Linked DNA regions of Homo sapiens: region 2 is linked to region 1. The links come from fine-mapping of genetic effects on gene expression. A gene starts in region 1. The other region holds a variant in brackets. All regions are shown on one strand. Distances are from middle to middle. Region 1 holds the start of LINC03052 (long intergenic non-protein coding RNA 3052). Region 2 overlaps ANKRD36C (ankyrin repeat domain 36C).

Region 1 (5,382 bases):
AACTTGTCTCAAAAACAGCAACTAATTATTTTGCATAGCCATTTTACCTGAAAGGTATAATTATTTCTTCTACAATTAATAAATCTGCATATGTCTAGGCCAGCTATATCAGGTAGAGCTTGTCCTCTAGTACTTACATCTATAAAACAAATAAGACAGTTATAAGGAGGCTCTAAGAAAAACAATTTTTTCTCATTCTGGACTTTGAGGTCTTAATTCTTTAAACTAATTTTCTGTCTCAATAGTGGATATCACCCTGAAACTTAATTTGTCCAAACACCTCACATAATCTGAAATTTTACAAAACATAAAGTTCATAGGATCAATACATTCTTGTGCCTTAAGTCTCCAGGCATTCAAGGATACTATTATGTGGAAACTCAGGCCTTCTACTGCATTATTGAAGGAGCACATTTGAGACTCACAGCACTTGTTGCTGTTAACAGGTCTGGACAATGAGTGATGTCAGTCCAGATAATTCTGAGGAAGGCTTTCTGCCTTGTTATAAGGAGGATAATCACTGGAGACTCTAGACAAGTTCCCAGTCATCATTCCAGCGTTTAGTTGCTGTTTTTGTAATCTCAGCATTTTTGGAGGCCAAGGCAGGTGGATCACTTTAGGTCAAGAGTTCAAGACTGGCCTGTTCAACATGGTAAAACTTTGTCTTTACCTAAAATACAAAAATTAGCGGGGCATGGTGGTGCACACCTGCAATCCCAGCTACTATGGAGGCTGAGGCAGGATAATCACTTGAACCAAGGAGGCAAAGATAGCAGTGAACCGAGATCATGCCACTGCACTCTAGCCTCGGTGACAGACTGAGACTCTGTCTCAATAAATAAATAAATAAATAAAATCACCTCTTGCATGGAGGGTGAATAAGGAGTATAACATGAGGACGTGTGAGGAAAATATGCATTAGAAGGGAAGGAGAACATACTTAACATGCCAGTGGAAGGTGAAATTCTAAATTATCTGAGAATATTTTTGAGAACTTTGTTTAATTCTCAGTGTAGAAAGATGTACCCTTTGAATGACATTAAAAATTCACTAGAAGAGTGAATAGTTAAAATGTCACATAAGTAACAAGAGTCTCAAAACAAAAAGTGTTCTAAAAGTTTAAAGTCCGTATTTGAGATAGAGGAGAGAATAAATAATAGTTCATTAATTAGTCTTTATTATGTGAAAAGACTTTTCTAAAATTCTTCCATAATAATTGAAGATATAAATTACAATAATTAAAATTTACAAAAGAATAAAAGCATTAAAATAAAGTGTGAAAAATTTAAAAAGGGTAAAGATGAAAATTATTTAATTTTTAATCTCAAAAATCCGAAAGTGATTTTATCAATGTCCTAAGAAAATTAAAATGAAAACAAACTTAATAATGTAAAGAAAGGAGGTTTCTGCCGGGCTGGGGGCGGGAGCTACGGCTTCTCTGGGGACGCGGAAGCGAGAAGCAGGGACCTTGGGGCGCGCCCGGTTTTCCGGGACGGTGCCCCGGCCCCCAGCCCACGCCTCCGGCCGCTGGCATGGTGCTGCTGGCTGGGACCCGGCCGCAGGGTGGCTGGGAGCGCTGCATGACCCCGCCACCGCCGTCCCCACTCCTAGGCGCACAGGTCGAGGAGGACCGCGCTGACTACAAAGAGTTCCAGGGCCCCACACCTGCAGCATAGCCTGGGACGACTCTGTACCCTTTCCAGGACGAGGAGGAGCACGGCGTCGAGGGCTTGGAGAGCGTCCCGGAGGAGGGCGTCCAGGAGGCATGGGGCTGCTGCGGACGCTGGTGCGGCGAGGGGTGAGCGTTGAGAAGGCGCAGGAGACTGACCACAATGGCTGGACCAGCCTTAATGTCGCCTGCTACCACGGCTTTGTGGATATACCGTGGTGGCCTTAGCTGAGTAACCCCACACTGACGTCAACTGGCAGGACAGGGAGGGGAACGCAGCCCTAAATACAGCTGCACAGGCAGGAGCTGCCTCTGGCCCCATGGGCACCGTTGCCTTGGACACTGGCTCTCAGCCTTGTGCTTCCTGGTCAGCATCACGTGGGCTGGTTCATTTGAGCTTTAACACAGATCTGGTGGAAACACAGGCTGCCAGGCCCTGCCCCTGGAGTCTTTCTTTGAATAGGCCTGGGGTGGGGCCCAAGAATGAGCAGAAGAACAGGTTTCCTGGTGAGGCTGATGCCGCTGGCCCAGGGTTCTCACGTTGAGGACCGAGAGCTTTGAGGTTTTCATACCTGATGATGTCCAGGAACCCTTCTCAGTAGGCACTGAAGACCATCAGCAGAATCACAGACCCCAGGAGAGATGTCGTCAGACAGACACAGAGGCATCACCGAATTAAAGTGAAAATGAAGAAAGGAGCTGAGCATCTGTTTCATGACTTTCGTGGCTGTTTTACTAAAGAGGCTATCCTGGCCCAGTCAGGGCACGCTATCATCACCAACTACTTGTTGAACTACGTTCAGGGTCTTGATCTTGAAGGAGGGACGCGTTCGGGTTGAAAGCCGCCATGCAGGGTCGAACGGATCGCATCGGAGCCCTGAGCTAGCAGGGGCGGGTGTCCACGCGAGGGCCCCCGCCGTGGGATGTCGCCAGAGGAGTGGCCACTTATACGTCCGCCTCATGCAGAGGCTCCTGGAGCGCCCCTGCCGGGAGCTGTTGGGGAAAAAGTACCAGCTTGAGCTGCCGCCGCTCCCCGAGAGGCCGCAAAAGCCCGAGGGCTCCAAGAACTGCCTGCAGAGGCTCAGGGACTGCGAGCTGTCCGCGCTGACGCCGCGCTCCATGCGGGGCCCAGAGGACCGGGGCGCCCTGGACCACATGGTCAGGATGACCACGAGCCTCTAACAGCCCCGCCGGGGCCCTCGCGTGCCAGACTATGTGCCCCGAGAGCACCTTGTGCTGGGGGAAGAGGCGGCTGGCGGTGCAGGAAATCCTGGCGGCGCAGGAAATTCCGGCGGCGCGGCGAGGGGTGGGGGGAGGCAGGCGCAGGAGGCGGGCGAAGAGGAGGGCGCAGAGTAGCATAAGCCGCTCGGCCTAGCGGCCGCTGGCTCCACAAAGGCCTCCCCAAGAGCCGGCCTCCCACCTGCCCGGCTGCCGGGGTCCTGGGGCTCCGCCGCCCCCGCCCCGCGGACGGCCAGCCTCCTGCCCCTGCAGTGCCTGCAGCAGAGCAGCTTGGGGCCCAGCGTGGTGGTGCCCAGGTCCGCCTCAGCAAGGTGCCCGCGCCCACCTTCCAACCCAAAAGGCCGGCGCGGAAGGGCAGCATAAAGGCAGCGGCCACCTGCGGATACCCAAGTGGCCTTACAAGGTGGCCAAGGAGGAGAAACGGGAGGCGGAGGAGGCCGAGAAGAGGCGCCAGGCCAAGGTGCAGGAGAAGCGCCCGCCGCCCTGGAAGAAGAGGACGTGAGAGTCCGCGGGTGCTTGGCACGGGGTTTGAGGGCTGGGTGAGGCCGCGGGGCTGGGCACCATGGCAGCTCTCGGGACCACCGGGCAGCGCGCGTTTCCACGCTGTCTCTCTAGGATGCTCCCAGAAAGGGGCTGGGGGAGCCACATCGATTCGCTTCACACCAGCCACCCTAGCAATCAGTACACCTAGGGGGCATGTTCCCTAAAAGGCTCCCTTTAGAGAACCTCAATTAAGATTTTTTTAAAGATTAATTTATTAGGCCAGGCGCGGTGGCTCACGCCTGTAATCCCAGCACTTTGGGAGGCCGAGGCGGGCGGATCACCTGAGGTTAGGAGTTTGAGACTAGCCTGACCAACATGGAGAAACCCCATCTCTACTAAAAATACAAAATTAGCCGGGCGTGGTGGCACATGCCTGTAATCCCAACTACTCGGGAGGCTGAGGCAGGAGAATCGCTTGAACCCTGGAGGCAGAGGTGGCAGGGAGCCAAGATGGCGCCATTGCACTTCAGCCTAGGCAACAAGAGCCAAACTCCGTCTCAATTAAAAAAAAATCAATTTATTAAAGGATATTTTCTGTGTAATTTTGTATTTTTAATTGTTGTCCAATTTGCCAAGTTTTACAAGTGATAGGGTCCCTTGTATCCAAGGAAGTTTTTATACACTTACCTGAAGACCTTTTATTTAAAACACTGTTTCCAGCAATAAATATTTATGATATCTGTAGGACTTTACACAGAAATCATGGGATTCTCTCCTTTTTGGGCTGTTTGCTTTGGTCTTCTCATCATGGGTGGATGTTTTTATTAATTAGATTAAGTGATGCCGGATATTTCTATTTGATGGAGGGATTGACTGGTTCAGCCACATGATCAAGTGAGACAGAGAGATCAGATTTTATTGTATCTTTTTAAAAAGTATTATCCAATACAGTCATATATTGAGGAAAAACATTTATCGTCAAATTATAAAACAATGCAGAGATAGGCATGTCTGTATTGCTAGAATTAAACTCATTTTAAGCAAGGAGTTTTAGATAAACTGTATACAAAAATCTTTAACATATTAAAATAGACATGAGAAAAATGTGTCATTTGATAAAATGGGGGAAATGTAATAAATGATTACCAGAAATATAAAATTAAGCCGTATATGCTCTTAAGTAAATCGAATCTAGGCATCCTTAAAATGTAAAAAAGGATGCAACAAGAGTAAGGAGCCCAGAATGATGTAAATTACAGGAATGGGGTGTAATGTAACCTCTAGAGGAGGTGATGTTTAGAAGAAGCAAAGAGAATGCAATGAGAAGCAAACTTGTTTTAGGCAAATTCTCCTGGAGTGGACCAGGCAGCCCCCTCTTCCAGACTCAGTTCCAGAGATTCCCTTATGTGGGTATTTGTTTTATTATTCCTTTGAGGACTGCATTTGGTGTTTAGTTCATCCTCATGTGGACCCTATGGAATTTCCAAGATGCGGGGCCTTAGCACTGTGGCACCTTCCTGCCACACGTACATAATTCACAGCATTACCAAGTCACCACAAGCCCCACGCTCACCTCTGTCAGCCCAGGACCCAGCCAGGCAGTGCCACGTGGTCTCCCAGGCTCGCTTCTCCAAGCCGAACTGCGAAAGTTATTGAGGCACTGGCCCAGGGAACTGAGCCTTGGGCCTGTCCTAAAGCTCCATAGGTGACTGCACTGCAGCCCACATGGAGAGCTGCAGCTCTAACACAGGGATTTTGAGAGGCCTCAGTGCCATTTAAGTGGCACTTCCAGGACACCCATCCTGAGCTCCCACAAAGGGCGCCACCTTCCCAAGAACGTCTAATTGTCATTGGAACAGCCAGTGTCAGGCAGCTTCTGCTCAGGCTGATGTGGCGTCTGACCCTTGGTGGGTTGCCAGACATTCCTTCCTGTTTCTGCCATGGGAAGTTGGCACTGGGAATGGTATGGAGCCCCCACTTCTACCCTGAGC
Region 2 (5,382 bases), 320 kb after region 1:
AACAATTAGACAAGAAAAGAAAAGAAAAGCATCCTACTCAGAAAAGAAATGTGAAATTATCTCTAATTGCAGACAACATGATCCTGTATACAGAAAACCCTAAATATTCCACCAAAAACTGTTAGAACTGATGCATGAATTCAATAAGGTTTCAGGATACAAAATAATCTAACAAAGATCAGAAGTGTTTCTGTATACAAATAACAAACTACCTGAAGAAATTTTTAAAAAATCCCAAGTACGATAGCAACAGAAATTAAATACTTAGGTGTAAATTTAAGCAAAAAATTAAAAGTCCTGTATATGAAAAACTATAAAACACCAATGAACAAAAATTTAAAAACACAAGTAAATGAAAAAAAAAAATTCATGCTTGTGGATGGGATGAATTAATATTGTGATAATGAACAAAATACCAAAAGCAACATATTTGATGCAATCACTATCAAAATTCCAATGCCATTCTTTTACAGAAATGGAAAAAAATCTTGACATTTGTATTGAACAGACCTAAAATAGACAAAATAATCTTGAGCAAAAAGAACAAAGCTAGAGACAGCCTGCTACCTAATTTTATTACATATTGTAAAACAATTGTAATCCAAATAGCATGGTAGTGGCATATAAATGGACAAACTGGCTAAACAAAATGGAAAACCCAGAAATAAACCCACACACAGTCAACTTATCTTTGACAAAGGTGCCAAGGACATACAATGGTTAAAGGATAGTCTGTTCTACAAATGGTGTTGAGAAAACTGAATATCCACAGGAAAAATAAAGTTAGTCCCTTAACTTACACCATATACTAATATCAACTCCAAATGAAGATTTAAATAGAAGGCCTGAACTGTAAAATTACTAGAAGAAAACATAGAGTTAAAGCTCCACAACACTGGTCTCAGCAATACTGTTTTTGATGTAACCCTGATAGCAGTCAACAAAAGCAGAAATAGACAAATTTCTTGTGGCTTAGTTTTGAATTTCTGGTCATTTACTCAATCTGGTCATTACTTTCCCACACTTCATGGTTACAAGTAAGCCAAGAGGTGGATCCACCTTCCTACTGCAGTATCTGAAAATCACTGTCTGTTCTATCCTCGGCCTGACCCTCTCTGGCATTCTTGGGATCTACATTTTGATGGAAATGTAATGCTCTGGAACCCTAGGCATATATGAACCAGAAACACGTATGCAGACTCTACTTACAGACAGCAACATAGTTGGAAATATATTAATCACAGTTGGATAGGAACAAATATTTTATATCTCTTTCTTAGAGATCTGGATTCCACTAAAACGGATTCATGGATGTCAGGGCATTAGGGGTGTGGATTGATAACAAACCTCTCCTTTTTCAGTGCCAAACAAACTTAGAAATAAAAACAAGAGGTCAGATCAATATCCAAATACATTATTCCTCCTAAAGCTGATTTAGAAACTATGGCTTAATGTTGACCAAAAAAGACTTCTAATATTGCCCCCTAGCCTTGACTTTAGAACCTGAACAAAAAAAAGTTCATCTGAAGAACAGTCAGTTACCCACCCAGTGCAGGGAGGGTCTTCACCTGCCTTCCACTTCTCCTGTTCAGAATCCAGAGGAGAAAGAGAGACTAGATGTACTCATTGATCACTGAGTAAGTTTGCCTTACTAATAGGCAAACGTGGACCAATGGATTTGATGGGACCAATGGATAAGATTTCCCATCCACCAAATAAATCACATCTTCTCCTGGCTCTGGGAATGAGCCAGATAAAGGTGAAGAGTTGGCAGTGTTTCTACTCAATATTTGTGAGAAGACCGAAGGTGTTGTCAATGGGTAGACAGAAATGGAATGAGGTGGGAAAGTTTTACTCGTTTGACCAACTTCTTTTCATTCATGTAGTATATGCTGAAGGTAACCGCTAGAAGAATTGACTTCTGGAAAGATGATTTCCCTCACAATTGCTTGATCTTGAGTATTTTTATTTTTGTGTTAAAGAACTGATGTTGGTTTGTGTACACTGAAATAATGGGGGGAAGCTCTGTATGGACGGAAAAGAAAGTTTCCTTTCTTTTCAGAGCTTTCTGTTCAGGTTATCGGAGTCTCCCTATTCATGGGATGAGTGTCCACAACAAACTCCACAATCCTGTGTCTGGTCATTGAAGGTATGTATCAGAGTGACACTTGGAAGCATGGTATAAAGAGGAAATATGCATTTGTCAAATGAAAAATTAAAATATAAAAAAAGTTTAAAAGGAAAAACAGAATGAGAAGGGCAGGGGCTTGATTAGAGTTTTGTTAACTGGGACAAACATTGCAGTTTTAGTCAAATATTGCCATCTTTGTAGTGGAAGACTTTGACATGTAAGTTCTAGATTATACTTTCATTTATAAATAACTGTGTAGCTTAATGAGATGGCCCCTGTTAGTATCTTAGGCCATCTATTGAAGGTTTACTAAATTCTTCCAAAGCATGTGAGTCTGCTCCTCAGCAAAGCAGTGACAAACCTGCTTTTCCCTGGTTTCCCCAACGGTGTAAAAGCTTATTAAAGAATTCCTGAACAATATAAAGTTCTCTCAGAAAGACGGAACTTCCCAAGCTCTTGTCTCAGGAGAGAATGTGGATTATAGAAAGATTGTGGGTGTGAGTGGAGTGGGAAGTTATTTAGGTAGTAAGATTTTCAGGCTTGGCGCAGTGGCTCACACCTGTAATCCCAGCACTTTGGGTGGCCGAGGCGGGCAGATCACAAGGTCAGGAGATGGAGACCATCCTGGCTAACAGGGAGAAACCCCATCTCTACTAAAAATACAAAAAAAAACTAGCTGGGAACCTGTAGTCACAGCTACTCGGGAGGCTGAGGCAGGAGAACCGCATGAACCCAGAAGGCGGAGCTTGCAGTGAGCCAAGATCTCGCCACTGCACTCCAGCCTGGGTGACAGAGCCAGACTCCGTCTCAAAAATAATAATAATAA[A/T]AAAAAAAAGTTAAAGAGGCCAAGAAACATCATTTAAAACATGATATAAATTTTCATCAGACATAAAAGATACAAAAATATTTTCATTTAATAAATACTTTTGCATGTCACACATTTAATGGGAAACAAAATATCATGTTAACAGCCTAGTAATACAATTTTATTGTCTTTTAGATTTTTTTTGTCAGCACGTATTCTTTCTGTTTTGTTTTGCATTTGAGATGGAGTCACTCTGTTGCTCAGGCTGGAGTGCAGTGGCATGATCTTGGCTCACTGAAACCTCTGCCTCCCGGGTTCAAGTGATTCTCCCACCTCAGCTTCCCGAGTAGCTGAGACTACAGGCATGCACCACCACACCCAGCTAATTTTTGTGTTTTTAGTAGAGACAGGATTTCACCATATTGGCCAGGCTGGTCTTGAACTCCTGACCTCAAGTGGTCCACCTGCACTGGCCTCCCAAAGTGCTGAGAATACAGGCATGAGCCACTGCAGCCAGACAGCACATATTCTTGTTATGCTTTTAAAACTAGGTATTGATTTAGATTTTACTCATTAGTAGATTCTAGTGCAGAAGCTATAGAGCAGCAGTCCCCAGCCTTTTTGGCACCAGGCAGCAGTTTTGTGAAAGATAATTTTTCCACAGATGGGGGTTTGGGGGATGGTTTCAGGATGGTGATTCAAGCGTATTACATCTATTGTGCACTTTATTCCTATTATTACTACATTGTAATACATAATGAAATAATTACACAACTCATCATAATGGAGAATCAATGGGAGTCCTGAGCTTGTTTTTCTGTAACTAGATGGTCCCATCGTGAAGAGAAAGGAGACAATGACATATCATCAGGCATTAGAGTCTCATAAGGAGCATGTGACCTAGATCCCTTGAACGTGCAGTTCACAATAGGATTTTCACTCCTGTGAGAATCTAATGGCTTTGCTGATCTGACAGGAGGCAGAGCTCAGGTGATAATGTGAGCAACGGGCAGTGGCTGGAAATACAGATGAAGCTTCACTCGCTTGCCTGCCACTCACCTCCTGCTGTGCAGCCTGGTTCCTAACAGGTCATGGACCTGTCTGTGACCTGGGGGTTGGGGACCCCTGCTATAGAGGATTCAGATTTAAATTCAGAAGTTACAATGAAAAAGAATTATATTCTTTATCTAAATGATTTCACAGTTAACTAAGAGAAAGTCAGTATATGTTGAAAAGTTTATCAGTGTTAATAAGAATGAAAAATATGTACAATATGCAATTACTATTAAATATAATTTGCCCATAGTTGCACACTGAATTCATTATCATGGCAGTTAAGTATCAGAGCTTCTGGTTTCTCACTCTTCATTCATGTATTCAGCAACCATGTGCTAAGGTACTAGGACAAGCACTGGAATTACAAGATAAAGATGATACAGTCCACCCCTCAACAACTGTATGCTATAATCTGAAAAAACAAACAGGCAATTCCCGTACAGAGTCATACATACAATGACAGGCATAAGACAGCACTTATTGGAAGACATAGAAGGGATACTAGCCCAGGTTTGTGTCAATATTGTAGGCTTTTTGGTAGAGGCAATTCATAGGTTGATATCTGAAGGGGAAGGAAAACACATGTAGGATAGAGGGAAGAAGTAAATGCAAACAGCTGGAGGTGAAGACGATCACTGTGGAGCTCCATGTAGTCTAGTTTGGCTGGATGCTAGAACAAAGGTGCAGAGTATGGTAAGTGGCGAAAGATAAGGCTGAATAACTTGACAAGAACCACACTGATGTGAGAGTTTTGATTCCATGCTAAGGAATTTTCAACTTTTCCCACGGGCAAAAGTAAACCAATGACAAAGTCAATGACTAGAGATTTAAAATGTCACTGGTCAAGTGACTGCTTGTGACCTGTAATTGCTTAACTAATTATTATCACGAGTGTGGGGTCTGTTAGCCTTAAATCACTACCTTAACCTTGAGAAGTTGACGATGCCTTTGTTTTGTGAGAACAGTTTCAGTTTGCAGGCTGATAGTTCTATAGGGGTGGCAGAAGAAAAGTGTAGGGCCAGAAAAAAAGGGATACACAGACTTCTTGCGATTTTTTAAAGCTATGGAACATGATGAATTAACAAAGCATAAGTATTACCCTTCACTATGAATGTTTATGTTTTCACATCTTTCACTAGATGTGTGTAAGAAAAAATATTTAATGTAGCATTTATTAACCAAGCAATTGAGAGGGAATACCGTTCACTACTTAGAGTTTATTTCAGAAATCAATGATTGGAATTTAATTCATAAATTTTGGCAACATACCTTCATCTAGCTCTCAAACACCTGCAGCATCTGAAATAAATCAAATATTACTTATAATGTTTCAGTCAAACAAGAGACATTATCATGTAAACCCACTGTAAGTCAAGGAGCATCTGTACTG

The links. PIP is the estimated chance that this variant, and not a neighbour inherited with it, causes the effect.
Region 2: its variant is the best candidate, but not a certain one, in a credible set for the expression of LINC03052 in whole blood (TOPMed, PIP 0.65).

The regions. Positions count from the first base shown.
Region 1 is chr2:95,523,814-95,529,195 of GRCh38, forward strand. LINC03052 (long intergenic non-protein coding RNA 3052) reads right to left here and starts at 2,941. Exons shown (of 1, transcript NR_182300.1): 1 at 1,060-2,941. It also overlaps the pseudogene ANKRD33BP1. RefSeq lists a silencer at 2,921-3,210 and an enhancer at 3,351-3,480.
Region 2 is chr2:95,845,905-95,851,286 of GRCh38, forward strand. ANKRD36C (ankyrin repeat domain 36C) reads right to left here. Exons shown (of 88, transcript NM_001393982.1): 87 at 5,262-5,291; 88 at 3,644-4,662. The coding sequence ends at 5,268. Among named protein-coding and RNA genes, the nearest start is that of LINC00342, 22 kb to the left of the region's middle. The variant A/T (reference allele first, on the strand shown) is at 2,958.